7 linked regions of the Homo sapiens genome follow. The protein of the gene in region 5 purifies or fractionates together with the protein of the main gene of each other region. This does not show direct contact. Each region holds a gene or a part of one and is shown on either strand. Other genes may lie near its edges.

The links.
Region 1: the proteins of NHSL3 (region 5) and GNL2 purify together in Homo sapiens (affinity purification with mass spectrometry; one large-scale study listed by BioGRID and IntAct). This does not show direct contact.
Region 2: the proteins of NHSL3 (region 5) and MAK16 purify together in Homo sapiens (affinity purification with mass spectrometry; one large-scale study listed by BioGRID and IntAct). This does not show direct contact.
Region 3: the proteins of NHSL3 (region 5) and EVL purify together in Homo sapiens (affinity purification with mass spectrometry; one large-scale study listed by BioGRID and IntAct). This does not show direct contact.
Region 4: the proteins of NHSL3 (region 5) and NHSL1 purify together in Homo sapiens (affinity purification with mass spectrometry; one large-scale study listed by BioGRID and IntAct). This does not show direct contact.
Region 6: the proteins of NHSL3 (region 5) and SYNGAP1 purify together in Homo sapiens (co-immunoprecipitation; one large-scale study listed by IntAct). This does not show direct contact.
Region 7: the proteins of NHSL3 (region 5) and PUM3 purify together in Homo sapiens (affinity purification with mass spectrometry; one large-scale study listed by BioGRID and IntAct). This does not show direct contact.

What each region holds. Positions count from the first base shown.
Region 1 is NC_000001.11:37,571,414-37,575,707, forward strand, and holds part of GNL2 (nucleolar GTP-binding protein 2), read right to left. Parts: intron 4,287-4,294; coding exon 4,182-4,286; intron 3,411-4,181; coding exon 3,252-3,410; intron 3,044-3,251; coding exon 2,930-3,043; intron 1-2,929. UniProt on the Homo sapiens protein: GTPase that associates with pre-60S ribosomal subunits in the nucleolus and is required for their nuclear export and maturation.
Region 2 is NC_000008.11:33,494,388-33,498,471, reverse strand, and holds part of MAK16 (protein MAK16 homolog), read right to left. Parts: intron 2,931-4,084; coding exon 2,856-2,930; intron 1,848-2,855; coding exon 1,731-1,847; intron 1,241-1,730; coding exon 1,175-1,240; intron 41-1,174; coding exon 1-40.
Region 3 is NC_000014.9:100,127,410-100,131,703, forward strand, and holds part of EVL (ena/VASP-like protein), read left to right. Parts: intron 1-1,109; coding exon 1,110-1,339; intron 1,340-2,153; coding exon 2,154-2,275; intron 2,276-2,922; exon of another isoform or gene 2,923-3,051; intron 3,052-3,227; exon of another isoform or gene 3,228-4,294. UniProt on the Homo sapiens protein: Ena/VASP proteins are actin-associated proteins involved in a range of processes dependent on cytoskeleton remodeling and cell polarity such as axon guidance and lamellipodial and filopodial dynamics in migrating cells.
Region 4 is NC_000006.12:138,443,400-138,447,693, forward strand, and holds part of NHSL1 (NHS-like protein 1), read right to left. Parts: intron 3,795-4,294; coding exon 3,602-3,794; intron 1-3,601.
Region 5 is NC_000001.11:32,747,936-32,752,229, reverse strand, and holds part of NHSL3 (NHS-like protein 3), read right to left. Parts: intron 1-4,294. UniProt on the Homo sapiens protein: Able to directly activate the TNF-NFkappaB signaling pathway.
Region 6 is NC_000006.12:33,444,065-33,448,358, forward strand, and holds part of SYNGAP1 (ras/Rap GTPase-activating protein SynGAP), read left to right. Parts: intron 1-379; coding exon 380-553; intron 554-2,510; coding exon 2,511-2,722; exon of another isoform or gene 2,723-2,734; intron 2,735-3,765; coding exon of another isoform or gene 3,766-3,778; coding exon 3,779-3,869; coding exon of another isoform or gene 3,870-3,872; intron 3,873-4,294. UniProt on the Homo sapiens protein: Major constituent of the PSD essential for postsynaptic signaling. Inhibitory regulator of the Ras-cAMP pathway.
Region 7 is NC_000009.12:2,819,767-2,824,060, forward strand, and holds part of PUM3 (pumilio homolog 3), read right to left. Parts: intron 4,069-4,294; coding exon 4,015-4,068; intron 333-4,014; coding exon 252-332; intron 1-251. UniProt on the Homo sapiens protein: Inhibits the poly(ADP-ribosyl)ation activity of PARP1 and the degradation of PARP1 by CASP3 following genotoxic stress. Binds to double-stranded RNA or DNA without sequence specificity. Involved in development of the eye and of primordial germ cells.

The sequences.
Region 1 (4,294 bases), 4.8 Mb from region 5:
GTTTAAGGATTGCTTAAAATGTCTTTTCAGATCCCTAATTCCAGCAACCAGTTTGAAGATCCCCAGAGAAACGGGATCTGCATGAGAACACAGCTTCTTCATCTCCCTGTCCGTGACTTCACCCTGCACTCTTCACCCAACCAATGACCCTCACTCCAGCCCACTCCAAAACCCTTAAAACCCTAACCCCAAACTCCTCGTGGAAATGATTTCAGGATTCCTCCCATCTCCTCCTTTGGTGACCCTACGGTTAAACTTCTTTCTCTGCTGCAACCTGGTGGTGTCTCAGCATATTGACTTGCTGTGTGCATTGGGCAACAAATCTATTATGGTTACAATAGTTCTTAAGAATTATCTGAACTACTTATCTACACTTACTGACTACATACGGAGGAAGGGCTGAAGACAATGCCAGTGTTTCCACACAGGGTCCCAAGACAGCAGTGATACGGACATCCAGAATGACCCTAGAATCCAGCTGCTAACTCAAAACCTCCAATGGCTTCCCACCATGACACCCTCTCCTGGCCCACGACATTCCAGCCACAGTGACCTCCTTTCAGCATCAGGACACACAGAGCATACTCCTGCCCCAGCTGCTCTGGATGTGCTGTTCCCCTTGCCTGGAACATTCTCCCTAGATACTAGCATGGCTCCTGTCTCATATTAAGGGCTCTGCTGAAGTGCCACTGCCTCAGAGGCCTTCCCCGACCACCCCAAAGTACTCCTCATCTCCCCCAAACCCCTTAGCCTGGTTTAGTTTTCCTCACAGCACGCAAGACTTCCTGACATTATATGTTTATCTGCCTACTGTCTCCCTGTGATATAAATGTCACACTTCCTGGCACAGAGCTCCTAAGACCCTTGGAATTTCCCAAGCGATGGGTATCTTTTTTATTGATTACAAGCCCCTTTCCACCACACCTGAGTTTATGCTAATGTGGTGACTCATGGTAGACCCCTAGATAGCTTCAGGATGGGGGATGCGCTGGTCACCAGAAAGACAAAGCACTTGACCACATGGTTGGTGCTTTCAGCCACTCAGAGGAGAGAAGGGAGACCAGAAATTGAGTCTATCACCAACTGCCACAGATTTCATCAGTCATGTCTATGTAATGAAACCTCCATAAAAACCCCTACATGATGGGGTTTGGAAAGCTCTGGGTTGCTGAACACATCAATGTGTGGAGAGGGCATGGAAGCTCTGTGCCTCTCCCCCATACCTTACCCTGTGCACCTCTTCCACTGGCTGTGACTGAGTTTCATCCTTTATCATAAACCGTTAATTGTAAACACAGCACTTTCCTGGGTTCTGGGAGTCCTTCTGGCAAATTATCAAACCCCAGAACCCCTGAATTTGTAGTTAGCCGGGCGTAAGTGTGGATAGCCTGAAGCTGCCATCTGAAGCAGGGGACCTAGTCCTTAACTTGTGGGGTCTGTGCTAACTCCGGGAGTTAGTGTCACAACTGAATTAAATTGTTGGGACACTCAGCTGGTATCTGAGAACTGCAGAACTGATATGGAAAAAAATTATGTATTTGGTGTCAGAAGAAACCACACACTCCCCTGCTGGAATATATGTGCAGGAGAGCAGCAGCTTGTCAGTTTCTCACCACAGCACCACCAGTACCCAGAAGAGTCTGTGGCCAACAGGAGACACTCAATATGGGATTGCTGGGTGAATGTATCAGTGAATTAATGAATGAAAGATGCAATACACATGAAGAGGGAGAGAAATTTTTGTTTGGTTGTTTGATGGTTTGGGCAGGGAGAAGGGAGAATGTCAATTAACATCAGTTTCAGGCTAACTTTCAAATGCTGCAGAATACATTCAACTGAAAATACCTAGCTGCAACTGCAACTTGGAATGGGGTCAGGTGAGAGGAAACCAGCACTGTATGGACCCAACGACACTAGCAAGCATAGATGCACAATTTGAAGCCACCATTTCAAGAGACTTGGCTGGGTTCTGAAAAAGGTCCTAGAACCAGAAAGGCAAAACGTTAACGTTGAGCCTTGTGGCGGCCCACTGCCAGGGTGAGGGAAATGGGGATAGTAGGAGAGCTTCTGGCCCCAGCCTTCAGTCTTCTTTCTCCGACTATCAGTAGTACCACTCTCCTTTCCCACTGGATCACAGGTTTTTTGAGGGCCAGGGCTGTTTTTCGTTCCTATATTCCCTGTGCCTGGCACATAGTCGATGCTAATAAATGTTTGTTAAACAAATGTTATCTTAGCAATGATTCTGTTTCGTAAGCATAAGAAAAGATACAGGTACCAGAAGATCACTTACATTTAATGAGCCCTCTTTTTCCAAGGCCCTAAAGGCTAGTATCTAAGTTTGGTCTTCTCTCATATGTCTACTTATTAGTCTCCAAATGCACCCCCTAGCAAGGCCATGGCACTGGCACTCTAGAATGAGAGAGGGTGGAGTGATCGCCATGGGCCAGCAGTGGCTCCCAACAGTGCTTCACCCTCAAAAAAATTTTTTTTTATTTTTTTGAGATGGAGTCTCCCTCTATTGCCCAGGCTAGAGTGCAGTGGCACGATCTCGGCTCACTGCAACTTGTCTCCTGGGTTCAAGCAATTCTCTTGCCTCAGCCTCCCGAGTAGCTGGGACTACAGGAGCGTGCCATCATGCTAGGTTAATTTTTGTATTTTTAGTAGAGACAGGGTTTCACCATATTGGTCAGGCTGGTCTTGAACTCCTGACCTTGTGATCCACCTACCTCGGCCTCCCAAAGTGCTGGGATTACAGGCGTGAGCCACCCATGCCCGGCCCCAAAAATATTTTTATATATTTAAAAAAATAATAAAATGAGAGACACCGCAGCTGAATGAATACACGCTCTATGAAGAGAGACAATCACAAGCTACACCAAATCTAGGTCAGGACCCATGCTCCCCAGAGGTGGGCCCACCCTGCTCTTACCTGGGGGGCCACAAGTGGCTCTGCATTGGGTGGCTTGACAAAGAAAGGAATCCGGCCCCTCTGCCAGTCATTGAGGACCATCTTACCCACAGTCTGCAAGTCGGGCTCTCCACCCTGAAAGGTCACAAAGAGATTCCCAATTAAATTCAAAGGACCAAAACCACCTACCACTTTGGGGGTATTTCAGTTGTCCCAGGGGTTCATCATCACTTAAGTGACAAGTTTCACACTGCTCATACATGCATACCAAAAAAAGGCCCATATCATATACATACATGCTTGTGACAAGTATCAGTCTAAATTCTCACAAACGCCGGGTCACCTTTAGTAACTTCCCAGTCCGGAAAGCGAGCTTCTCAAGAAAGTCCTCAGCATTCTCCCAAGAATCAATCTTGTATGTTTTGCTGATATATTCTGGCTTTGCTCGTTCAAGTACAGCACCAATGTGGTCTTCAGGACTCTTAATTTTTTCTACTTGAACCTAAATGTTAATAGGAAATCTCTCACTTACAAACTTTGTTGTGGAAGCAGTGAAGTTCCCAGTGTCCTTTGCAGCACTATTTGAAAATAGACTTCAACATCACAAAGCTCGTGGAGATTGGCAGGAGCCTGTCTCTGACGGGGCTAGACATGGTCAGCTGCAAGGAGCACTGCTGAAAGCTGACCATAGCCACGGAGCCCAGAACTCAGCTTTAATCCCCACTCACCACAAACTAACTGTGTGGCTGCCACAGTTTAAACTTGGAATGCTTCATGTTACTCACTTGCAGAAATGGTTAAAAGCCTGCCCATCCCAGGACACAAAAATAATGGAATAGTTTAAGAAAGGAGAGGAGGAATGTGTACAGGATGTATAGCCAGAAGCATGGTCAAGGTTAAGTGGAACCATTTACAGTTTTTCAGTCGTATTCAGAAACAAGTGAGGAAATGACTGGGTTCCAAAATGACTCAACCCATAAACCCACGAAGACGAATTATCGCTAAGCATAAACAGGCCCTGCTTCCCTTTGGATCCTGTGTGTAAACTACAAACTCTTTTGTGGGATGATATTGACCAGATATGCCCATGGTTCCACTAATTCCTCAAACAGCTTATGCTGAGAGGCTGCTGTTCAGCATCATGTTCCTAAAGTTTGGTCAGACAGGCTGACCCCAAACTGCCTTCTTAATAAGTAAAAAGGAAAGGTATCCAGGGTTCCCTATAGAACACTCCCCCGCAAACACAAACAGCCTATCAGGGCCAAATACTCACAACTCCTTTTAGCACAATGTCTGTCTCGGAGTCCTCAGAGGGGTAAACCACACCTGGACAGTCAATCAGGAATATCCGACGCATCAAAGTAATATACTGCCAGACCTGAAGTC
Region 2 (4,084 bases), on a different chromosome or scaffold from region 5:
CCTGATCTTCATCACTGCTGGCATCCAGTTTATCCATATCCTATTACGGGGAGAGAAAAGATAAAGGAAGAGGGAAAACACTAGATTTCTCCAAACTCCCTTCCTTGTCCCCTCAATCTAGAACAGACTAGGGCATTGATTTGTCTATGTCTGTGTTCAGAAATTGTCCCTTTCTTTAATTTTTTTTTTTTTTTTTTTTTGAGACGGGGTCTTGCTCTGTTGCCCAAGCAGGAGTGCAGTGGCATAGTCATGGCTCACTGCAGCCTCAAACTGCTGTAGTCAACAATCCTCCCACCTCAGCTTCCTGAGTAGCTGGGACTACAGGCAACCGCCACCACATCCAGCTGAATTTTAATTTTTTTTTTTTTTTTTTTTGGAGACGGAGTCTCGCTCTGTTGCCCAGGCTGGAGTGTAGTGGTGCGCTCTCAGCTCACTGCAACCTCCATCTCCTAGGTTCAAGCGATTCTTCTGCCTCAGCCTCCCAAGTAGCAGGGATTACAGGCATGCACCACCATACCTAGCTAATTTTTGTATTTTTAGTAGACACGGGGTTTTGCTATGTTGGCCAGGCTGGTCTCGAACTCCTGACCTCATGTGATCCGCCCACCTCGGCCTCCCAAAGTGCTAGGATTATAGGCGTGAGCCACCACGCCTGGTCATGATTTTTAAAAAATTTTAGGCCAGGCCCTGTGACTCATGCCTCTAATCTTAGCACTTTGGGAGACTGAGGCAGGCGGATTACCAGAGGTCTGGAGTTCTAGACCAGCCTGGCCAACATGGTGAAACCCCGTGTCTACTAAAAATACAAAAAATTAGCCGGGTGGAGTGGCACATGCCTGTAATTCCAGCTACTTGGGAGGCTGAAGGAGGAGAATCGCTTGAACCCGGGAGGCTGAGGCTGCGATGAGCCCAGATTGCACTATGGCACTCTAGCCTGAGCTACAGAGCGAAACTTCATCTAAAAAAAAAAATTTTTTTTTTTATTAGAGATGAGGTCTCACTATGTTCTTCAGGCTGGTCTCGAACTCCTGAGCTCAAACAATCCTCCCATTTTGGCCTCCCAAAGTGCTGCAATTATAGGAGTGAACCACGGTGCCTGGCCACCTCCCTGTTTTTGTTTTTTTTTTTTTTTTGCTGCAGGCCAAAGGACAATCTTTTTACCCATAAAGCTCACCTCAAAATCACTTATGTCACTCTCATCTACCTCACCATCTTCGACAAATTCTCTTTTCCCCACATCCTATAAATAAAACATAACTGTTAGGTTCAGAATACATAATGAAGATTCAGATTAGACATCTAAGTAAGTACAAAATAACATAATGAGAACCACAGTCTTTTCACTAGGCAATGAAAATTTAGTTCTTTCTAAATTTAATGCTTCTGAATTTTAAAAATTTTAGGGCTACCAGATCATTCTTATTCTTGATTTAAATTATTAGCAATAAAACATCCTCATTATGGTTAAAAACTACATATAGACAGGAAAGGCTTTATAATTTGTCACCTTGCAGGAACAATTTTAGAAGACCAATAAATTAAGACTAAAATTGTTAATGGTTTGTTGGTTAGCCTGAAGAACAGAGCAACCAGTGCTAAACCAAAATTAATCACATGAAAGAAAAAAGAAGACATATCATTTTTGGTTAGCGGACTGAAGATGATATTCTGTTTCTCAGTTTTATACAAATGGTATCTAGTAGGTTTGGCAAAACAAAAACAAGACTTACTTCCTCATCATCATCATCATCATCTTTTTCCTCAGTATCTGAAGAGTCACTCTCTGCCTCCTGTTGTTCCAGGGCTTTGTCGAAGGCATGAATGGGGAAGTTGTAGATGTCGCCATACTGAAGAACATAAACACAGATTGGCTTTAACTACATTTGGATATTACACTTGAAGTTCCACTTTCTGTGGAGAATATTACTTTTTCCTCAGTGATTAAATCAGAATACTTAATTTGATGAGTAATATTTTTAAGTGTAGAGCCAGCAGTGTCTTAAAAAAGCATGTTCTTTTGAACATTTAAATCATCTGCAGTTAGTATCAAATAGGTAACTTCTATGGAGTTACATTTTAAAATAATTTAAAATGTAATAGTCTACAAAACCCATGCATTGGGACAAATGTCATTTTGCTGACAAGGGGAAATAATAAGGAAAAAGCATACTTTAGTCATGTTGTCTGTATAAACAACACTAATTTTTAAAAAGAGAATAAAAACTTATTTCAAAGAGCCTTAAAAGACTAGGGTAATATGCAGGAGAAGCAAAACCCCATGGCTTTTATACAGAAATCTGGAATTGTTGTCTTGGGGAATGGAGCTGAGAATAATGGCAAAAAGGGAAAGGTCTCTTATAGTGAATGGAGTATCAAGGGTAACCAAAGCATTTTATGTGCTTGCATTAATTAAAGCAAGGAAGCCAGGCCGATATGGATTTATTTTATTCCAGGGATAAAATTCGAGTGGAGATCTTCATATCATGTTAAAAAACATTTCCCAGCCAGGCACAGTGGCTCACGAGGTCAGGAGTTCAAGACCAGCCTGGCCAAGATGGTGAAACCCTGTCTCTACTAAAAATACAAAAATTAGCTGGGTGCAGTGGTGGTGCCTGTAATCCCAACTACTCAGGAGGCTGAGGCAGGAGAATTGCTTGAACTTGGGAGGCAGAGGTTGCAGTGAGCCGAGATTGCACCACTGCACTCTAACCTGGGCAACAAAGCAAGACTCCATCTCAAAAAAAAAAAAAAAAAAAAAAAAAAAAAAAAAAAAAAAAAAAAAAAAATTCCCAATATGTCTTAGCAACATACTACCACTTAAAATTTCAGTACCCCAAAGCTAATGGCTTTCTCACCGTATCTTGTTTCAGTCTCTCCAGTAATTCCTTCTCAATGGCATTGTCCAGCTGAGCAGCTATTAATGCCTTTTCCTATAAGGGGGAAAGAGCAAATCTGTTTAATTCATCAGTGCTCATTACTCATCTTATAAAAATGGAAGAAACTACCAAGTTGTTTATAAGAAAGACAATGTAATTATTTCCCCTCCTTGCTAATACTGGCTTTTGCCTTTCCAACGAGATAGATTTCTTCTTCTTTCTCTTGTAAACTTCCTTGGGAACATTTCCATTTTGAAATTCCTATGGTTTTGTAAACAACATTCTAAATTAAATTCTAACACAGGCTTTGATAGATACAAAGCATGTAAGTCTATATACATTTAAGTGTCTCAGAAATAATCTAGCAACTCTGGAGCCAGACTTTGTAAAAGCTGAGAAAAGAGAACAGAAATCTTCATTCGTTTACATTTTCTAAAATCATGCTAGATTCCATGTGACAGAATAGGTAAAAATCTCTTCCTCCAGTGATCTCTCATTGGAGATGACACATGACATCAACCTGTACTACCACACAATAGCCCAGGATGGTGCATTAATTTGATAGTGAAAGTCATAGAGGGTTTTAAAGTGTTATATCTGTAAGTTATGTTAGAATGATTACGTAAAACTGTGTAGGGGCACATGGAAAATTAGCCAGGCATGTTAGCGGGCGCCTATAGTCCCAGCTACTCGGGAGGCTGAGGCAGGAGAATGGTGTGAACCCAGGAGGCGGAACTTGCAGTGAGCCGAGATCACGCCACTGCACTCCAGCCTGGGCAACAGAGCAAGACTCCATCTTAAAAAAAAAAAGGGCTACAGCGATGTTCCATGTTGTTCTCTAGAGTGGGGTGTTTACACTTCAAGGGTATCCGCTGAAGTGTAGGAAGAAAATATTCAAAACTTCCACATATCTCTTTTTCCTTAAAAAATTTAACATCATTACTACTTTTCTTGTACACTGACATTGGTGCCTTGACTCTGTCTATAAAGTAAATAGTTGTGTGTCAGATACAGTGAGCCAGATATCTCAAGGGAGGAATACGGCAGATAGGGCTTGCAAGTGGTGGTCTCACTTGTTTATTTAGACGACTATTTAACTGTTTATGTTTGCTTAGTTAAGCGGATTCATAGATGACACTGAATATTCTGCCAAAGATAGAGAGTAGTTATAAAAGTATGCTGGTTATCTAATGGGTTAGTATTTTTAA
Region 3 (4,294 bases), on a different chromosome or scaffold from region 5:
CTGATGAGAAACCCGAGCCCCCACTGGTTACAGGAACGCTCTGCTCGTGAGATGCTGGCTGACCCCATCACCCCCACCTAGCTGCTGCTGGCCTCCTGCTCCCCGGCCAGTCTGCATTTCTGATGCAGGTCTGACACTGTCATCATGTCGTCCCTTCCCCATCACTCTTGGAACAGCCTGTGCCTGCCCTCTCTCCCTCTAGTGCCTCGCAAGCACTTCCCATCCTTTTCCTCCTTCCTCACACTTGCCTCCCCCCTTCACCTAACTGAACCCCTGCTCTCCGGTCGTGTCCCAGCTCCACAGTCACTTCCGTGAGGACGTCATGGAGGACGTCCGTCTTCCATGAACTTCTGGCCAGGCTGGAGCCCCTCTTTGTATGCCAACATGGCGCCGTGTGCCTGCCCTTGGTAACACTTGTCAGCTTGCCACAGTCCTCCATCTGCGTTTACCTCTGCGATTCGTTGACTGTTCCTCATAGGCTGTGAGCACCCTGAGCAGAGAGCTTGTGGCTGGTTTTCCTCAGCACCATACCCAGCACCTAGCACAGTGCCTGGCACAAAACAGGCTTAGGCAGCACTGGCGGAAGGGGCTGGATGGATGATGCTGGAGCCCAGCACTCGGCATTGCGCCCTGACCCATGCCCCCAGTCGGCCCTGGGACCCACAGGACCTGCCACGGCCCCCAACGACCCAAGTGTCAGTCACAGTTGGATCTTGGTGACCAACTTCTGCCTAGGGGGTGCTAGGTGCTTAGAAGGAGCAGAGAAGAGAAGAGGCACAGACTGTAACCAGACAGCTTCCTCTCCCCCTGGAAAAACATGATTGGAGCAAGAGGAAATTGCCTGGGCTCAAGGAATGTTAAGCAAATAGAGGACACCTGTGGGTCCAGCCAGGCCCCGGAGTACTGAGGACACCAGAATAGGGAATAATTGTGCCAGAGCCAAGTTCATCCCGCGGAGGCTTCCTGGATGAAGCAGGCCTGGAGCTGTTTCTCATCCCTTTGGGGAGCAGCCTGCCCCTGTCCTTCCTCCGGGGAACCTGAGCTGAGAGCAGCAGGCTTGGCCCCCAGCTGGGTGCTGGAGCTGGCTGAGCCTCACTGTTGTGTTTCAGGGCCCATCCTCCCACCAGGACATCCTTCATCTGCAGCCAGCGCCCCCGTCTCATGTAGTGGGCCTCCACCGCCCCCCCCACCCCCAGTCCCACCTCCACCCACTGGGGCTACCCCACCTCCCCCACCCCCACTGCCAGCCGGAGGAGCCCAGGGGTCCAGCCACGACGAGAGCTCCATGTCAGGACTGGCCGCTGCCATAGCTGGGGCCAAGCTGAGAAGAGTCCAACGGGTAAGAGCTCCTGTGTGCGGGGTGGGAATGGGACCGAGGGGACCCTTGTGCCATCTGCAGAGCGCTTGTGTTCCTTCCCGCATCTGCGAGACACAGCAAACTGCTTCCCTGCCCAAAGCTAGCTGGCCCTTGGCCACTTGTTCTCAAACGAGAAATCACATGGGACAGCACTTTGAAATTATGAAGTTAGCCTTTGAGCCTCACGTTGACCTTCACACGTGGGGCAAGAACTATGTCCCCCTTTAGAGATGAGGAAATTGAAGCACAAAGAGCACGAGTAATTTGCTCAAGTCACACCGTTTACAAATTGCAGATTTTGGACTCAAGCCTGGGTCTCCTGAATCTATGTCCATTGCCCTTTCCACTGTAGGAAGCTGTATGCTGGCAACTAGGTCCACCCGGCTGTTTCTTCCCTAACCCTTGCTCATATGTTCTAGAACTGTGCTTGTAAGAATAGCTCTAATACAGACCTTTGGCTTACATTGTGTTTCCTTCCCACAGGATAGTCTCTTCTCCCCTCCCTCCCTCCCTCCATGTGTCATGGCTGGTCTTGGCAAAGACACTAACCATGAGTCTGCAGGCCTGGGGAGTGTCTGCGACTTGTGTGACCTGGGCTGGTCCTTGTCCCTCTCTCGATTCTGGTTTTCTCCCCTGTGGGGTTGGAGAATAATGGACCAGATGGCCCCTGAGGCCCCTTGCAGTGCTGCTGCCATAGGATTCACACGCACACAGTCCCCTGCATCCCCTCACATCGTTGCTGCTCCTGTTCTGCCATCAGCAGCAGAATCTAAAACGCGGCCTCCTTTTTCCTCAGCCAGAAGACGCATCTGGAGGCTCCAGTCCCAGTGGGACCTCAAAGTCCGATGCCAACCGGGCAAGCAGCGGGGGTGGCGGAGGAGGCCTCATGGAGGAAATGAACAAACTGCTGGCCAAGAGGTGGGTCTCTACACCTCCCGAGACTTGGTGTGCCTAGCAGGAAGCTCCTGCCCCCGCCCCCAGCGCTGCACAGAGAATCCTCTCTTGACCCCAGAATCTTTGTTCCCTGGGTTTAGCCAAGCAGGGGAAACTGTTACTTAAGTTTTCCCTTCCCAAGGGGTTAGTCTGAAGCGCAAGCCCACAGGAGTCCTCTAAACTCCAGATCCTTCATTTTAGCTCAGCAAATATTTCCTGAAGCATCTACCATGTACCAGCCCTGTCCTGAGCAGAGATAAATGTGGAGACAATTTCAGAGATAAATGCGGGAAAAAGAACAGTCCTTGCTCTTAAGATCCTAACAGAAATAAGATGTGGCCGCAGTGGTCGAGTTTGCAGAGGACACTCTGGTGAATGTGTGGTGAAGGCACCCCATTCTCCAGGGTTCTTTATGGAGGACTCAGGAGAAGGAGTTATGAAGGGTAGGAGCCCAGAGGGCATTGCCCTGAGCGACGGAGAGAGAGTAGTTCCATCTACATCCCGGCCGGGCTCTTGGGCCTGAGACCTGGCCATGTGTGTCTGCTCGCTGCAGCGGGTGTGGCTGCAGCCTGCCATTGTGGCTCTCCGCTGTTCCCCAAATGAAACCCGAGCAGATGGGGAGATCGTCCAGGTCTTTCTCAAAAGGGATGCAAAGCTTGGATTTTATTTTTAAATATGACTTGGCATCAGGAATGTGCTCACCTTGGACTACCAATATCGTGGCTCACTTAGGCACCAGAGGGCACGGGAGTAGGCCTCACCTGCCAGAACAGAGGAAGCTGCAGCGGGGGCCCTGCTCCCTTGGTAACCCCACCTCCACCCCCTGCCACTTTGTCGCCTTCTCCTGGCCCTCCCAGCTGCCTTCCAATTGGCTGACCCAAGTGAGAACTCTGTGTGCCCAGGGTCTTCACACTGCAGTCCTAGTTCCTCTCATTACCTTCCCGTGGCTCCATGAGGATGATGCGAGATGACAGAGGCCCACAGCTGCAGGCAGCTGGTGTGGCGCTTCATGGCAGGGCCACAGCCTGGGTTTCCTGCCAAGGGGCTCTTTGCTTGCATCACAGATGGCAGGGAGGGGAGGCTCCCCGTGTGTCAGGGAGCAGCAAGGTGGATCCGCAGCACGGGCGTCTCCGGAGCCTCTACTGGGCCTGGGCGTTTGTACATCGCCAAGACAGGAGGCAGGCTTCTGAGCAGTTTCCTGTGAGAGTAAGTCCAGGTGTGTGGGGCTTACAGTGGCCACACAAAGGCGAATGGCTCCGTGGGTGAGAGAGCCGGGAGGGCTCGCAGAACGATGAGGACGTCCCGTGCTGTAAGAGGGACAGTGGGCAGAGTTAAGGTAAGGCTGGGAAGGCTGACGCCCCCTGTGCCTGGAGAGCTAGGTGTGGAGGAAATGGACCAAAAGTCAGGCTGGAAGAGGGAGCCTCCTGGTGCAGGGCATCGGGTTCCACCTCAGAGCACTCAGAGGCGAGGATGGGCCACAGAGAAATAGAAATAGTTTTGGAAAAGAAAATATGAATGCTTTCCCTAAGTCCTAGACCAAGCTGAGGGGAAGCACCTTTCTGTCTGAGAACAGGAAAAGGCCAGTATTGCCAGGAGCCAGTGAGATGCCAGATGCCGGTGGGAGAGTCAAGGCCCTCCCAAGAACAAACATGCTTTGCATAGCTCAGCAGGGATCAATCAGGTGCTCTCTGAAATCCACCTCAGTGATGGCTACTGGGTGGAGCCGACGATGAAAGTGCCCTTGCCAGGTTTCTTTTCATGTAGGTTGTCTCCCGCCTCTGAGGGCATGCAGTTGAGTCTCCCAACAGTGGAGGGCAGGAGGGAAATGAACGTGGACAGAAAGCTCCTGTTCAGCAGCACTTTCACAGACACTCATCCCGCCTACACTCCCCGTGAGCAGGTGGCTTGGTCAGCGTTCTGTTTCTAGGAGATGGGACACTGGCTGCTGGGGGGTAGCTGGTGAGGTGTAAGTGATCGTGGCTAGGCCAGTTAGGAGACTCTGAC
Region 4 (4,294 bases), on a different chromosome or scaffold from region 5:
GGGTCGCTAAGTGCAATGGCATAAATGGCACATGTGAGGGGCAAGTCACAACTGCAGTGCTTCATTAGTTCCCTGCAGCAGAAGAAAAAACTTCCTTGTATCAAGACATTAAGAACAGACAAAACATTAATAGAAAGTTACACTTAGGCCAGTGTGGTGGCTCATACCTATAATCCCAGCACATTGGAGAGTTGAGGTGGGTGGATCACTTGAACTCAGGCGTTCAAGACCAGTCTAAGCAACATGGTGAAATCCTGTCTCTACCAAAAATACAAAAAAAGGTATCTGGGTGTGGTGGCATGTGCCTGTAGTCCCACCTACTCAGGAGGCTGAGGTGGAAGGATCGCTTGAGCCTGGGAGGCGGAGGTTGCAGTGAGCCGAGATTGCGCCACTGCATGCCAGCATGGGCGACAGAGTGAGACCTCCATATCAAAAAATAAAATAAAATAAAATAAAGTTGCATTTAGTCTCCAGTTTTGCTTCCTAGACAAAAGATAAAATCACCCAAGCTCCCAGAAAATTAAGAAACAAACCATTTGAGGATGAACACCTAAGACACACGTCATTGAAGGCACCAAATGCTTGATCTTGCATCATGACCTAAAAGTCTCTTCTACTGGATTATACATTTTTTGAGGGTACAGACTGTGATGCATGTACTTTAGCATCCCCTATGGCACTCAGCTAATGCCTGGCACAAAGCAGTTATTCAATAAATATCTGTTGAATTACTCACTGCCTTTAATTGAAAAATGGCATTCATCAGTCATGGTTACTATTTAGAAATAAACTTGAAAGTCTGTGGGCATACTCTGGCTCTGGAGGCTGCCCAATTCATGAATTGTTCATTGCTCAATTAAACTCTTTTAAATTAAAAAAAAAAAAAGAAATAAACTTGGATAGCTCAAACACCAGCACAAAGCCAGTTTGTAAAAATTATTTAAGTATGTTTATCCTCTACACTTATCTTCCAGATGGAAGAGTTGTTGTCCCACATAGCAGATGATAGAAGATATTTATATGTACATATTAAGTATTTTTTCCTCCAGTTTTAGAACATGCCGAGTGCCCACAAGACTATAACTAAAGGGATTAAATCAATTTTCAAGCCAGCAGCTCATGGTGCTAACATTCTACCTCTATGCATGGTGGGCTGCACTCTGGATTTGAAATCGCCATTTTTTTTTTTTTTTTCCTGCTGAGCCTTACTAGGAAAATCAAACTAGAGGCTCAATGCTCACCCCAGCGAACGAGCACATGACAGTTCCCTAGAGGAATTTTCTTTTTTTAATCTCAAATATCTTCTAGGACTTTAGAAATACATAATTTAAAGAGCAGGAAGCTGTATAACCTATGTCAATTCAACCACTAAAAGTGAAAATTTTAAATTTATTGCTTCTTTATGACAGATTAGAAAAACTAATTCTTTAAGAAATATGTGTGTATATGTGAACACACAGATGTAGAAAATGGATCAATAAATACGTGATTAGGTATTATATTTACTTTTGGCATTTCTGCAAAATGTTAATCACTCGATTAAAAGTAAATTACATTTTGACATAACTCATACTGCTCTTTCTTTATTGTCATTCACCTTTCCTGAGTAGCATTTTAAAGGCCTCTCTTTAAAGTCTAATTCATCTCTACTTAGTCATCAGATAGGATAGAATTAAAGCTCAGAGACATGACACTGTCTTCTGTTGTGACAGTGTAATTCATTGCAAATAATTCTTCATTCCTGAAACTCTAATTACTCTATTTTAAATCTCTTAATCTCAAGATAATGCATTTCACCTTAATTCCATTAAGGATTGTCATATTTCATTGCACAATCTTCTTATCTTATAATATTATTTCATAGGCACTTAATTATATATAATGTAATTACATTTCTGCTGCATTTAATCAATCAAATAATGTAATTCATTTTCTTATAGAAAATAAGCAGCCTTGTATTTCATTGACCAGTACACATTATACTTTGTTCTAAAACATAGTTATACTTTTAAAAATAATCTTTAAAAAATATGATCTCGGTAAATAAGAAACATATTCAGAAAGATCAATAACACTGTTTGCTGAGAAAATGGCTTAAAATGCCCTGCTATTCTTTTAAGATTTAAGTAAAATAAATGTGGAAAAATATATACTGAATTGAAAATAATTCATGCACTTATTTATTAAATTTCTATGGAATTTAAAATATGAGTTCTAAATGTAATTTCTAAATATCTGGTAAGGTTTTAAAAAAAATCTTCGGTGACTATGAAAATGCTATTAGCCCCTTACAAGCTCACCAGTGCCATGGCAAAAAGCTTTCTAAAGCTTTCTAACAGCAGTAGCCTCAGAAGCACAGCAAGGATGCTATGGGTTTCCAGAGTAAATGTTCAGGAAAACTCATTCTTTTTGGTCACCTAGTTTTTTTGTTAGCTTCTGGCCTTAAGGGCCCTGCTTTGTATGACTTGATTATCAATGACCACTATTAGTCATCTGCTTCCATCAAACATACAATTCAATTAATAGTTGAAGCTATTAACTCTTCACATGTCTATTTTGCACTTTGTGCCCTCCCCAAACCACTAACCCATGCTCCTTGTGGGCTATGGAGGTGATAAGGCAGGAAAATTTTGATTTTTTTTTTTTTTTTTTGAGGTGAAGTTTTGCTCCTTTTTGCCCAGGCTGGAGTGCAATGGTGCGATCTCTCGGCTCACTGCAACCTCTGCCTCCCGGGTTGAAGCAATTCTCCTGCCTCAGACTCCAGAGTAGCTGGGATTACACGCACGTGCCACCACGCCCTGCTAATTTTGTATTTTTAGTACAGACAGGGTTTCACCACGTTGGCCAGGCTGGTCTCAAACTCCTGACCTCAGGTGATCTGCCCGCCTCAGCCTCCCAAAGTGCTGGGATTACAGGTGTGAGCCACCACGCCCAGCCAATTTTGCTATCTTTTTAGCAGCTCTCCTAAGTTCATGAAAGATCATCTTTGAATTTTATGTACCTTGTCACCTTAATTGTCACAAATGATTACAGGCTGAGTATAATATTCCATAAGAACTTGAATTTCAGGTTTGGCAATTAATATTTGTAGTCTAGCTTAATATAACATATTCTGAAAATTTTATATTCAGAAGAAATAAGTAATGTCTCCTTTTTTCTACTTTAGGAAATTTCTAGAAAATCTATCATTAGAAACATCACAAAATAATTATTTACTTCTGTAAATATTACTTAACCCTTTAGAAGGGAAATATATACTTTTTCTTCATACCTAGGACCACATTTACAAGATGTTTCCATATAACCAAAGGCTTACTAAAAAGCAATTTAATTAAAAGAGACACTCTTAAGATGAATGGTTGGACCACTGAGTTCTTTGACACCAGTGTTTGGCGACATAGTCTTCGAACCCAACAAGCAGTAGACATTTTATATGCACACACATATGTAGTTTTAATATTCCTCTCATTAAACAAAGAGCATGAAGTTGGACCACAGCTATTCACCTTTGATGTAGCAATGAAATGCTAACAGCATAAAACAAAAAGCTGTAGTCATTCTCCCAAGTACATTCTGAACCTGTCTGGCTAGCAAAGCGTACCAGTTATGTTAATAGGCACCACGTCAGCCTGGACTGTTTGGGCTTGCTGTCGCATCTTCTCTTCTGGTGTTGGCAGTGGAAGCGACTTGGTCCAGTTCGTCTGAGTATTAAGGTCGGAGAAGTCACTTGAGGCTGGTGTTTTAGGTCTCCTGATGGAAATAAATCTTTCTTCTTCTGATGAAGACAGAGAACACTGCAGAGAAAAAAGAAGCAGCAGCCACAGTGTATAAAGAGCTGGCAGAAACATTTTAAAATATATTTCTTATTTTTAAAAAAATTGGACTGGTTTAAAAGAAGCCAAAATAATTGATCGCTTTTAGGAACAGAAGCAATGGTTTGCTCAGCCTCTTGAGTCTGACCTATAATATGCATGATTCACACCAGCCTTAGTCTGTAAACTGTGAGGACTGCAAAAGGTTCTGCTGACCCACAAAATCTTTGAAGTCCTTTCTGCTTTCCCTCTATCTACTGTGGTCAGAAAGCTCATGGAATGGCCGGCGTGGTGGCTCATGCCTGTAATCCCAGCACTTTAGGAGGCTGAGGTGGGTGGATCACTTGAGGTCAGGAGTTCAAGACCAGCTGGCCAACATGGTGAAACCCCATCTCTACTAAAAATAAAAAATTTAGTCAGGCGTGGTGGTGGGCACCTGTAATCTCAGCTACTTGGGAGGCTGAGGCAGGAGGATTGCTTGA
Region 5 (4,294 bases):
AGTCTCAGGTTGACAACAGTGCAGTCCTTGAAAGGCTGGCAAGTTATTCACCCATAGAAAATATTCATTGAGCATACACTGTGTACCAAGCTGCGTGTACACTTTGCACAGAGAAAATGGTCCTAGTGTCAAAGCTGAAAAAGACCTCGGAGATCAGCTAGCCAATTCCCTGAATTTATATAGATAGGGAAACTGGGGCCCATAAAAAGAACAGTTAGTATGGGGGAGTAGAGGGAATACCCAAGGATAAAGTCTAAATTTCTTGGCATGAATTAAGTGAGGACAGGTATGTGAAGAGGCTCAAAGGATTTCTGAAGTGTGGCAGGTTCCTTGGCCTTCACAAGAAGCGTTGGAGGAGCTGCCCCTGCCCACCAGTTCAGCCTCATCTCCGACCTCATCTCTGAGATGAGAATCTTCTTCTCAGAGCTACAACCACACAAAACTGCTTGCCACCCTCCAGCACACAACTCCAGGCGTTCACACCTGCCATCCCCTCTTCCACCTTGGCCTGAAAGGTGCCTTTTCATTCTCAATGCCCTGCTCTACATGCTGCTCCTCCATGAAGTCTTCCTTGCACCCCCTCTTCCCCCAGCTCAGTGCTTCCTTAATGAAGGCCCCACAGACATTAGTGCTGCCTTCTGATATAGTACTGATCACACCCCAGGGCTCCCCTGCACCCCGTGTTCACCATCCCAGAACTTGCCTTCAGACAATAGTTTTAGTGTCTGCCTTTCCAACCAGAACAGTTTCCTGAAGAGCAGTGATTGTCTGACTCCTTTGAGTAACCCCAGGCTCAGCACATAGTAGGTGTACCTATGTGTTTAATAGAAACTGGTGGAGGTGGAGATGGTGGGGCTTGTAGATTAGCTGTAGTAGCAACGGTGACGCTTGCATACTGACGGAGGTAGTGATGATAGCGCATAAATACTTTCACTGCAAAGGCAGTGCTTGCTCCAGGATCCTGTGGGAGGAGTACTGCCCACTGCCAAGAACACAGGACAGGCTAGGCTAGGACTGGTGGGAAGAAGTAGGTGGTATGGAAGGCATATGGACCAGAACTCCAGGAACCACAAGAATGAGCTGGAATGCCTCGTGACCCTCTTAGAAAATGGTGGGGAAGGCCAGGCACGGTGGCTCATGCCTGTAATCCCAGCACTTTGGGAGGTAGAGGCGGGCAGATCACCTGAGGTCGGGAGTTCAAGACCAGCCTGACCAACACGGTGAAACCCCGTGTCTACTAAAAATACAAAATTAGCCAGGCATGGTGGCGGGCACCTGTAGTCCCGGCTACTTGGGAGGCTGAGGCAGGAGATTCGCTTGAACCTGGGAGTCAGAGGTTGCAGTGAGCTGAGATCACACCACTGCACTCCAGCCTGGGTGACACAGCGAGACTGTCTCAAAAAAATAAATAAATAAATAAAAGGGGCCGGGCGCTGTGGCTCATGCCTGTAATCCCAGCACTTTGGAAGGCTGAGGCGGGCAGATCACAAGGTCAGCAGTTTAAGACCAGCCTGGCCAACATGGTGAAACCCCGTCTCTACTAAAAATACAAAAATTTGCTGGGCATGGTGGCAGGCGCCTATAATCCCAGCTACTCGGGAGGCTGAGGCAGGAGAATCACTTGAACCCAGGAGGTGGAGGTTGCGGTGAGCAGAGATCGCACCACTGCACTCCAGCCTGGGAAACAAGAGCGAAACTCTGTCTCAAAAAATAAAAATGAAAATGGTGGGGAAGACCTCACTTGGCTAGACTTGGAGGAGGGGGTGTCCTAAGCAGACAGGAGGCCTCACTTAGTAATCTCCCTACCAGGAGCCTCCTGGGAATCACGCACTTTGCTACAAGATTCAGGGTTTAAATCCTCTGTGAGCTGAGCTGTCTCTATCGCCCCTTCCATGCCAAGCACAGAGATGGGCACCCTGTGAGTGGGCTGACAGTCTTTTAATGAATCAGCCCCTCAGGACAGTGGAGTACAAGGGCATAGAGTACAGTGGGGTATAACTAACGATGGGGGAGGCGGACAGAGATTTCACTCCTCCTAACCAAGGAAGCTGCAGGGACTTGGCTGACTTCCCCAAGTCTGCCAACGGGCTAGAGGTGGCCTTTGGGTCCGCACAAGGAAGGTGTGTGTCCCTGCTCCTCCAACCCCACCATGTTCACTGTGGCCCAAATAACATACAATGCTTCCTCTTATTCGTTTTCTTTAGCATGTGACAGGCCATGAGCAGCTGAGACAGCTTTGAGGGTCTGGAGAGAGAGGGATTTCCAAGGAGCAAGTGCTGAGGGGAGGCTCTCACTCTGCCCTCTGCTGACAAGAGAATGCAGATTTTTGGGGTCACAGGGCTTGGCCACCACAGTTCAACCCTTGCTAGGAGCCCTGCTTCAGGGACTGCAGGGAGGGTACAGTATGGGGAGAGCACACTGATTGAGAGCCCCTTTCAGGCCCAAGGGGAATTTCCAAGAGAAGGGTGAGGGAGAGAGAGCTGGAAGGAGCCCCTGAAGGTGTTGAGGGGAGGGCAGGGAAGACTCCCTTGGCCTTGCTTCCTTCTCAGCTCTTCACACCCCTAGCAGAGGCACCTCTCTGGGATGCGATTTTCCATTTGAAGTCTGAAGAAAGGAGTGAAGAAGCTGAAGGCCTGGCAGTTGTGGGCTTTTCTTCTGCCTCTGACACTAGATGGCCATGTGAACTTGAGCAAGTCACTTCCTCCTCCGGGCCTCAGCTGCCCCATCTGTATGTACCATGAGGGCTCCCTATGACATCTCGGGCCATGAGCTCTGAGAGTCTAGGATCCGGAGATGCCCATCTCTGGGGGCCCATACTGGAGCATTACCTATCATCCAAGGCCACTTAGCCAGGCCTTGTGCTGGCCAGGGCAGAGGGAAGAGTCTGTCAACCCAGTCTCTGCCCTTCGGGTATTCAAAATAGTGAGGTACAGCAATCCCTGGATCCCACGGAACCCCAGATAGCCAGCTGGTCCCAAGTCCCTAGCACGTGCTTTGCCTGAGGCCAGTGCCACAAACCCTTCAATCCCAGCTTCCTTTCATCCTTCCATTTCAGCTCAAGCGCCACCTCCCTGGGGAAGCCATCCCTGACCTCCCTCAGAGATTGCTGTGCTTCCCCTTGTCACACTTGTTAACCCTTAATTACTTGTTCAGCGTATTTTCCCCCCTATACACACACTCATCGTGAGGTTCATGAGGCCCAGGACTTTGTCTCTCTTATTCATCCCGAGGATAGTGCCTGGTATATAACACTTAGGAAATATCTGTGAAATAAGTGAGTGAGGCTCCCTCTCCCGTCTGGACCCTAGGAAAACAATGTCTATCCTCTCACAGGGGTCTGGGGGAGACAGAGCAGCCACCCTGTCACACTCTTTATTTTTTACATTTCTGGGAAGCCAAAATGTCACATTCTTATTGAGAAACCCCAAACTCCTCTGGGAAACCACTCCCCTATTGGAGGTATCCCATAGCAGAGGGAACTCCGCCCCTATTACATTGGTCCAGGCCCCAGGTAAGGACACTGAGGTGCCCTTTACCCAAGAAGAAAGTGGCTGGAAAAGCATATACTGCCCAACCCCAACTCTCTTAAGCACCTTGCTCTAGGGTCTGGGGACAATAATTTCCCCTGGGAGTATCACAGAGATGACACTGACACCAGGCCCTGAGGGCTGAATAGGAGTTCACTGGATAGCAAAGTGAAGGGGAGCACATTCCAGGCAGGAGAAGCAGCACAGGAACTGACACAGAAGGGGAAAACACATGGGAGTGTTGACTGACGGGCAAACAGACACCATCCTGACCTCAGAAGGGCAAGGCGCCCACGACCCCAGAGACTTGACTCTGACTGCTTTGGAACTATCTAGGCCCCTTCCTCAGCAGAGAGAAATGACATTGTTCATAATGGACTCTCCTTACCCACCTTCCTTTTTTTTTGAGTTTTGAATGAAACTGTTGCCCAGTTGAACTCCCGTCGCCCAGGCTGGAGTACAGTGGCGTGGTCTCAGTTCACTGCAGCCTCCGCCTCCTGGGTTCAAGTGATTCTCCTGCCTCAGCCTCCCAAGTACCTGGGACTACAGGCGCCTGCCACTACGCCTGGCTAATTTTTGTTTTTTGTTTTGAGACGGAGCTTTTTGTTCTTGTTGCCCAGGCTGAAGTGCAATGGCGTGATCACAGCTCACTGCAACCTCTGCCTCCTGGGTTCAAGCTATTCTCCTGCCTCAGCCTCCCGAGTAGCCTGGGATTACAGATGCATGCCACCATGCCCAGCTAATTTTTGCATTTTTAGTAGAGATGG
Region 6 (4,294 bases), on a different chromosome or scaffold from region 5:
TTGCCTCCTTTTGGCCATTAAACAAATGTGTATAGAGGGCCTGCTATGTGCCATGTGCTATGCCAGGCACTAAGGATACGGCACTGAACCCTCTTAGCACTCTCATTCCAGAGGGGATTAATCCATAAGTAGAATGGGGGTGACTGGAATAGGGCCAGCTGGGGGCTTGGAGGCATGAAGATCAGATCCTGAATCAGAACAACAGGAGAAATTCTCTGGCATTCAACTCACATCTCTGGCATTCAGAGGTGATAAAGGCTACAGCAGGGCAATAGGACTGGGACTGTCGTCTCCTTTGGCTGTGCTGTTGCCCTCTAAATGTACCCTGCTTTTTCCCACCTTTTCTTTCTCTGTTCGCCCTCACTGTGCCTTGTCCCAGCATTCTCAGACACCATCCACATTGAACCCCACAATGCCAGCCTCTGAGCGGACAGTGGCCTGGGTCTCCAACATGCCTCACCTGTCGGCTGACATCGAGAGTGCCCACATCGAGCGGGAAGAGTACAAGCTCAAGGAGTACTCAAAATCGATGGATGAGAGCCGGCTGGATAGGGTACGATGGGCTCTACCAGCTCCAAGCCCCAGTGTTTCCTTTTACCCACAGGGGAGATCTCTAGTCACTTCCAAGGGAAACCTCCAGGGTCAGTTATGGTGGTAAGAAAAGGCAAAGACCTGATCACCTCTTGAGAAGCCTTCCGTCCATCTGGGGAGACCAGATACACACAGTTGTTAAAAGTCACTTTCAACTCTATTTTGTAGGTTATATATATCATAGACTATCTGGGGATCATCTATTTTAGGCTTACCTCCATGTTCTTCCCCAGGAGGAACATAAGCCCTGGCTCCTGTGACTGCTTAGGAAAGGAAATGTTACTTTACTGGCAGTAGGAGCTAATAAATTGGATGGGGATGGAGGGGGTTGCAGCTATATTACAAGTGATGTCTGGCCTACCCAGTCACTGTCCCATGGGCATAAGTGACAGTCAGTGGGCAGGGAATGCATGTGGTAAAGTAGTATGTATCAGTCATGTGTGAAAAGACCATCCAGACCCTCACTTGGTGGAGGCTGAGGGCAAAGGGCACCAAGAGCTCTGGGGCTAACACAGATAACTTAGCAGAAAGTTACTTGAGGAAGCTGTTGTTCCTAGGGCCTGAGGAAGAGGGCGGCTGCAGGATTAGGTCATATATAAAGAACATATGATCCTAACACGGGGAAGTGGTCTTTGAGCATAGGAAATGTTGGGACTGACTCAGATGGGCTTGACCAGCAAATTTAATGAGAATTAAACCCTAATATTAGCCCCAAGGCAGCCACCGTAGGAAGTTAATTCACATCTCTCCTCTGCATGTAGAAGGGTTGGTGATATATGTATGTATCCTCTTCAGAGAATGAGGAAATAGTCTTTTGAATCATTTTTTTTTCTGTGCTTCAGATGAGGAAACCTTGTTGAGAAAGGCTGTAGACTAGCACTATCCAATATAACTTTCTGCAGTGATGAAATGTTCTGTAATCTGTAGTGTTCACATGTGTCTAGTTGTGATTCAGGAACTGAATTTTTAGATCTATTTAATTTTAATTTTGTAATTTTTTTGAGACAGGGTCTTGCTCTGTCACCCAGGCTGGAGTGCAGTGGTGCAAACATGGCTCGAGGCAACCTCCGCCTCCTGGGCTCAAGACATCCTCCCACCTCAGCCCCCTGAGTAGCTAGGACTACAGGGTCGTGCTACCATGCCTGGCTAGTTTTTTTTCTTTTCTTTTTTTTTTTTTTTTTTTTTTGTAGAGACGGGGTTTTGCCATGTTGCCCAGGCTGGTCTAGAACTTGTGAGCTCAAGTGATCTACCTGCCTCAGCCTTCCAAAGTGCTGGGATTACAGGTGTTGAGCCACTGTGCCTGGCCTAAATTTTAAATAGCTACATGTGGGCTGGTGGCTACCATATTAGACAGCACAGCTGTAGACTCTAGAGCCAATAGGGCAGATAAAATGACTCTTCTGAGCTCTTCCAGCTCTGGAATTCCTAGATTCTCAGCCTAGAATTCACTTGTAGACCTCCTATCCTTGGCACCTTGACAGAGCCAAGGAGAGGGTCACATGGAGGACAGCACCTGCCTTTCCCCCGTCAATTGCCTTTTCTTCCTATGTCTCCAGCATGTGTTCTGGGGCCTGGCTTAGGGCTGAAGAGTCACCCTATTTTTAATTTCTGAGCACAGTTACTCAAGGTGTGTTTGTGAGTGTAGGTTTCTGTGTGGGTCTTCATGAGGGGCCATACATAGACCTCAGGGTGTGGGAGTCTGTGACCTTGCTCCATTTTGAGGGAACCTCAGCACCATGGCAGGGTCTTCTCAAAAGCAGGTGTGTGGATATGATCCACAGGCAGGGAAGGGGTTGGGGAAGGCAGCTGGATGTCCCTCAACATGCAGTGGCTGTGCTTGGCAGACAGGGATGGAGGCTGGGTGGTGGGCTTGGGGTGGGGCGCCCCTCATAGTGCGGGGTCGTGTGCCCGGCGGGCAGGTGAAGGAGTACGAGGAGGAGATTCACTCACTGAAAGAGCGGCTGCACATGTCCAACCGGAAGCTGGAAGAGTATGAGCGGAGGCTGCTGTCCCAGGAAGAACAAACCAGCAAAATCCTGATGCAGTATCAGGCCCGACTGGAGCAGAGTGAGAAGAGGCTAAGGCAGCAGCAGGCAGAGAAGGATTCCCAGATCAAGAGCATCATTGGCAGGTGAGGGGCGGCCTGGGGAGGGGGTTGTGAGGGAGAGCCTGAGGCTGGAGAGAGCAAGTGGGTGAGCTACTCCGCTGACTCCCATCCCCAAACTCAGGAGCCCACCAGGAGAGCCCACCACTCTCCTCCCCAGGAAGCCACCCACTCACTCATCACCAGATGGAGAGAAACCCCAACCTGCTTAGTGCATTAAATATCTCTTTACCAAACCCTGACCTCTCTTCTGATAGAGTAGCTTCGGAAGCCCTTGGAAAATGTACCTGTTCCTGTCCAACCATCACTGCATTTGCATTTACCCTAGGCCAGAGCTCCCCACTAGTTATTCTCAACTTAACCTGTGATGTTCACTCCAAACCTAAGCAGGGCTCCCTAGCCAGAGTAGGCCCTGCCCTTCCTGGGTGGACCCTCCCTCTCTAGCCTTGGAAAGGTGTTCTGTTAGAAAGGGTCTTTTAGCCTGTGTATGTTTTCAGCTGCTCCAGCAAGTCCTGGGCTCCAAAGAGGGTATCCTCAGCAAAGAGGTCAATTATCTTCAGAGTGGTGGGGTCGGGGTGGGGGGGACCCTGGGCGCACTCCAACCAGAGCCACCTCCATTTTGATCCATTCTAAATGTATTTTATGTAAGATTTAATTAGAAGAAAAGGGCTTCTTGAAATATTTTTTGAAAACCACTGCTCTAATTGATATCCTTTATGATAAATCACCTCGAGGATCTTCACAGTGAGGTGACATGGGGGATGCAGAAGCCAGGTCCTCAGCCATGGAAGGTCTGGGGAAGGGGCACTGCTGTCCTGATTGGGACGATGGAGGCCTGGAGGTGTCTGGATGGTAGAAGTCTTTGAGGCACAGAAAGCTGCCTTAGCAGGGAGGTGTAAGGGTTCCTGGGAGGAAGGTGGAGAGCATGATCCTGAGGAACAGGGAGTCTTGCATCACGGCAATGGAGGGACTCTGATTCTAAGGGATAAGGATGCCTGAGGTTTTTCCAGAGAGCTATGGGGTTCCATGGGCAGGCTCTGAGCCTGTGCCCGCCACTAACCCCACTGAAGCCCGTCCCTTCAGGCTGATGCTGGTGGAGGAGGAGCTGCGCCGGGACCACCCCGCCATGGCTGAGCCGCTGCCAGAACCCAAGAAGAGGCTGCTCGACGCTCAGGTGGAAATTACAATGTCATTTATCTTCTCCGTGTCCCATCCCCATCCATCCCACTGTCTTTCGTGCACTCACTACACCAGCCACCTAGCCCCATCACCATCTGTCTCTCATAGTCTGCTGTTTGTCCACTGGCTGCTCCTGGCAGCCCCCTAGTGACCCCATCTTCATCCCATCGTCTGTGCCTTTGTCACTCCTGGCAGCGTCAGCCCAACTCCTGTGCCTTCCCATCCAGTCTTCCCACTCCTCTCTGCATCTCAGGACCTTCTCTACCAGAACCTTGGTCTTTCTGCCCCTAGACCCCACCTAGTTCCAAGAACCCCTGCCCCTTCTTTGCTCACTCCTATTCAAGCCACGTTGTTCAGCTTCCTCTGCGCTCTTGGGCCAGAGGGCTAGAAGCTGCCGTTTTCTGGAATAGAGCACAGGGC
Region 7 (4,294 bases), on a different chromosome or scaffold from region 5:
ATAAAAGTGTTAAATCTTAATTTGACCAGTCTTAAATATTTAAAACAGTATTAATATCAAGTTACAAGGTTAAGATTTACACAGGAATAAAACAAACCTCCAAAATAAAACATAATTAACTTAAAAGTAAGCAAAAATACTGATAGAAGGCACAGCTGCAAGTCTTTACACATGCATGGTGAAATCAAGCTTACACATCCACAACTGGTTTATCGATGTAACTTAAATTCAAGACCATCAGGATTACTTACTGATATGATTATCTGCTTCACAAGCTTAGTATCATCAATACAATCAAATGCCGCCAGTAAAACCAAATGGGAGTATTGGCCCTGCAAGAATTGGAAGCCAGCAAAGGTTAAAAACAAGTGCATAGATCTTCCCTCTTATTTCACACATGGAATATCTTCATAAAGGTAGAGCGAGACTCCGCTCAAAAAAAAAAAAAAAAAAAGATTACCTACATTGACAACTTGTCTAACATAACAAGATGAATAAAAGCCATTTTAATGAACTTCCTCTCTTATCACGACCTCATTAATTATATTCTAGAGGTAAGGTTGATTTTTTTTTAAAGCACATTATTCATTACCAAATAGTCTAAAACTAATACCTATTTACATAGGTTACTGTTAATGAATAGCTACTTGAAAATTATACTTAAAAGTTCAAGTTATAAGATTAACTTCAAAAAACCTACATATATAAACACATATATGATACTCCAATCATGAAAAAGAAAATATAAACTCATACAATTTTACACACATACACACACACACACGATATACATAATACATGTACACAGAAAATCCTGGAAGGCAAGGCATTGTAATAGTCATCTCTGGGTTATACAAATGATTTTTAATTTTCTTTTCTATATTGCTCAATTTCTTTAAAGTGATCTCACAAAATTAGAATATAAATATGAAAAAATAAACTAGAAGAGTATAATTATACACTGAATGAGAATGATATAAAAATCATTACTTTAAAAAAAGTATAGCTGCATGAGATCACAGAAATACACATGTGGCTTTCACAACACTCATCTTTTGAAATAAAATTATTTCCATGATGCTAATACTGTTCCAAACATTTAAAGAACACCTACTTTATGTTAAGAACAAAAACAAAAGAAAACAAAAACCTGTTTCCAGAGCTTGTGGCATGAGTATCCTGGATGTTGATATAATTGTTTCAAACTCTGATAGGAATTTGATTTTTGATAATAGCCCACAATCATTCAGAGCCAGATCTGATAAATATCACAGATAATACAATTTCAATTAGAAACAATAACGAAGTTGCTAACTGTAAAGTCAAAAAGACAAACTGAAGACAAACAACAAAGGTCTTACTATACAAAGACCAACAACCAACTAAAAATGGGCAAAGCCAGGTGCGGTAGCTCACGCCTGTAATCCCAGCACTTTGGAAAGCTGAGGCTGGTGGATCACGAGGTCAGGAGATCGAGACCATCCTGGCTAACAGGGTGAAACCCCATCTCTACTACTAATACAAAACATTAGCTGGGCATGGTGGTGGGCGCCTGTAGTCCCAGCTACTCAGGAGGCTGAGGCAGGAGAATGGCGTGAACCTGGGAGGCGGAGCTTGCAGTGAGCCCAGATCGCGCCACGGCACTCCAGCCTGGGCGACAGAGCAAGACTCTGTCTCAAAAAAAAAAAAAAAAAAAGAACATGAAGAGTCAGATCACACTAAAACAGAAGTACAAATGTCTTTAAATGTATGAAATAATGCTTTATGAACTAATTAAGGACAATAATTAAAACAATGAAATGCCATTTATCCTATGGGTGATGGTGAAAACCTCTGACAATAGACTAATTTATCAAAGGTTTAGGGAAAAGCAGGCACGCTTTTATGTTGATGAGAATGTAAAGTGGTTCAACTTCTTTGAAGAGCAATTGACAACACCTATACAAATTTAAAATGCAGGTATGAGCTGATCCAGTGATTCTAGTTCTAGGGATTTATCTTGCAGACGTGTTTCCATGTAAGTACAAAGACTTACATATGAATATATTCACTGGGGTACTAATTGTAATTTTAAAAACTCTAGAAACTACCAAAATGCCCAACAGTGGGGACTGGTTAAATAAATTATGGTATAGGCACACGATGAAATATTACAGTCACTAAGAAAAGTGAGGTAGACAGATGTATGTATATTGAAATAAAATGACCCATAATATGAATTAAGTGAAGGAGACAAAATATAGAACAACGTGCCTAGTACAAAATCACTGGTTTCAGTTCTCTTAACTCGGACACACATAAGCATAACCAAGCATAAAATATTTCTAGGTGAATACAACAGAAGGTGGTACAGAATTGAATGTAAGTGAGAAACAGACAAATCCACAAGTATAGTTGGAAATTTTAACATGTTTCTCTCAGCAACTGATAGAACTAGAAAATAATAAGTCAGTAAAAACACTGATGGTATGAACACTGTCAACTACTTTGATCTAATTGACAAATATAGAATACCCCACCAAACAACTCTACAATATATTATTTTCAAAATACTTAGACCATATGTTAGGCCATAAAACAGGTCTCAGTAAATTTAAAAGGAACAAAAGAATATAGAATATATCCAGAAACCCCCAATATTTGGAAATTAATAATTCCAAATAATCCATGGATCAAATCCATGGGTAACGTTAGCTTATCACCCCTTTAGAAGTAACTCTTCGAGATTTAAAAAGATATGTACTTAGTGTTAAATTACCTGACATAAACAAACTGTAGAACTAAAACAATATAATTTTATTATTTTAAAATGTTATACTCTTAATACCTTTGTGAATTTTCTATTAACATTCTAGTTTTTACTCATTTTAATGTAAGGTATTCAAATTAGAATGTCACGCAAAAAAATTTACTTAATATTGAATTATGAATTATAATTATGAATTATATTTATATTTATAACATAATAATATAATGTTATATAATATATAACATTATAATTCATATTATAATTATGAATTATGAAATATATATGAATATTGAATTATGAATTATAAAAAATATGAGAATTCCATATTTCACTTTATTATAGGAACGTTAGCTGCCTTCTGAATTCTTCTAATTTCTAGCCCAACAGAAGACAATAGTCAAGTACACAATCACACAGCATTAATTTTAACTTGTTTGATTTAGTATTTCAAACAAGTTGAAGTATTCCCCAGATGCTAGTAGTTCTCACTGGATGTTTTCAAAGGATAAAGTAGTTGATTACTACATAATTTTAGTTCATCAATAAATTAGAAATTTGTTATCCATCAAATATATAAAGTATAACTCAAAAATTAAAATTGTATTCACTACATATATTCTAGTTACAGTACACCATAGCAACAGCATGAAAAATTATTTAATAACTAAAAACATATAAACACTATTTTTGAAGCAACAAATCCCCCAGAAAAAACTTTTGTACCTATGAATTTCATTAGGAAAATTGTTACTGCATTTCTAAAGAGCTATAAAATTTAACAACTAAAAATTTCCATAACCACACTGCAAATTTATTCTTAAAAAAAAGATACATTTTAATTTCTTTTATGGTTTTGGTCATAAGGAAAACTACTATCAAGTTTCTGAAGTGCAATCTGGCATCATTTACCCAGAGACTAAAATATGTACATACTGTATCCAGGCAGTAATTCCCATATTTAATTAACATGACTGGACAAATTCACCAAAAAAGCTAGTAAATATCAGGTTTTCAAAGAATATCTAATAAAAGTAGAGAACTATCACAATACAATGTTAAATTAAAAAAGGAGAAAAGAATGCATGTGACATGATTTCCATTTTGTGTAGATAAAATATGAAAATACATGTAGATGCAAAGAAAAATATAATAAAACAATAATTTTCTGCTTGGTAATTTTCTGAATTTTTCCAAATTTTCTATAATAGACATGAATTCATCTTACTATCAAAAATAATTAGAATATGTAGTTTTATTATACTTACATTAGCCACCTTTTCAACATAAGTCTTCATTGTTTTCACAATCACTTTCCTGTCCTTAAAAAGGAAAGATTGTCTCACTGAATTTTCAGTTATGTATTAAGGGTATTTTGTAGTTAAACATTTTAATATAATATTTATTAAGTTTTCATTTGAGTGGCATATGTTTTCATTAGTAAAAATAATAGTTATACAGCCAGAACAAAAAAACTGTAATATACCAAAGAAGTTGGCTTAGAGCTATTACAAGCTTAGATGTGTATGTGATAGGGTTAGGGTTAGG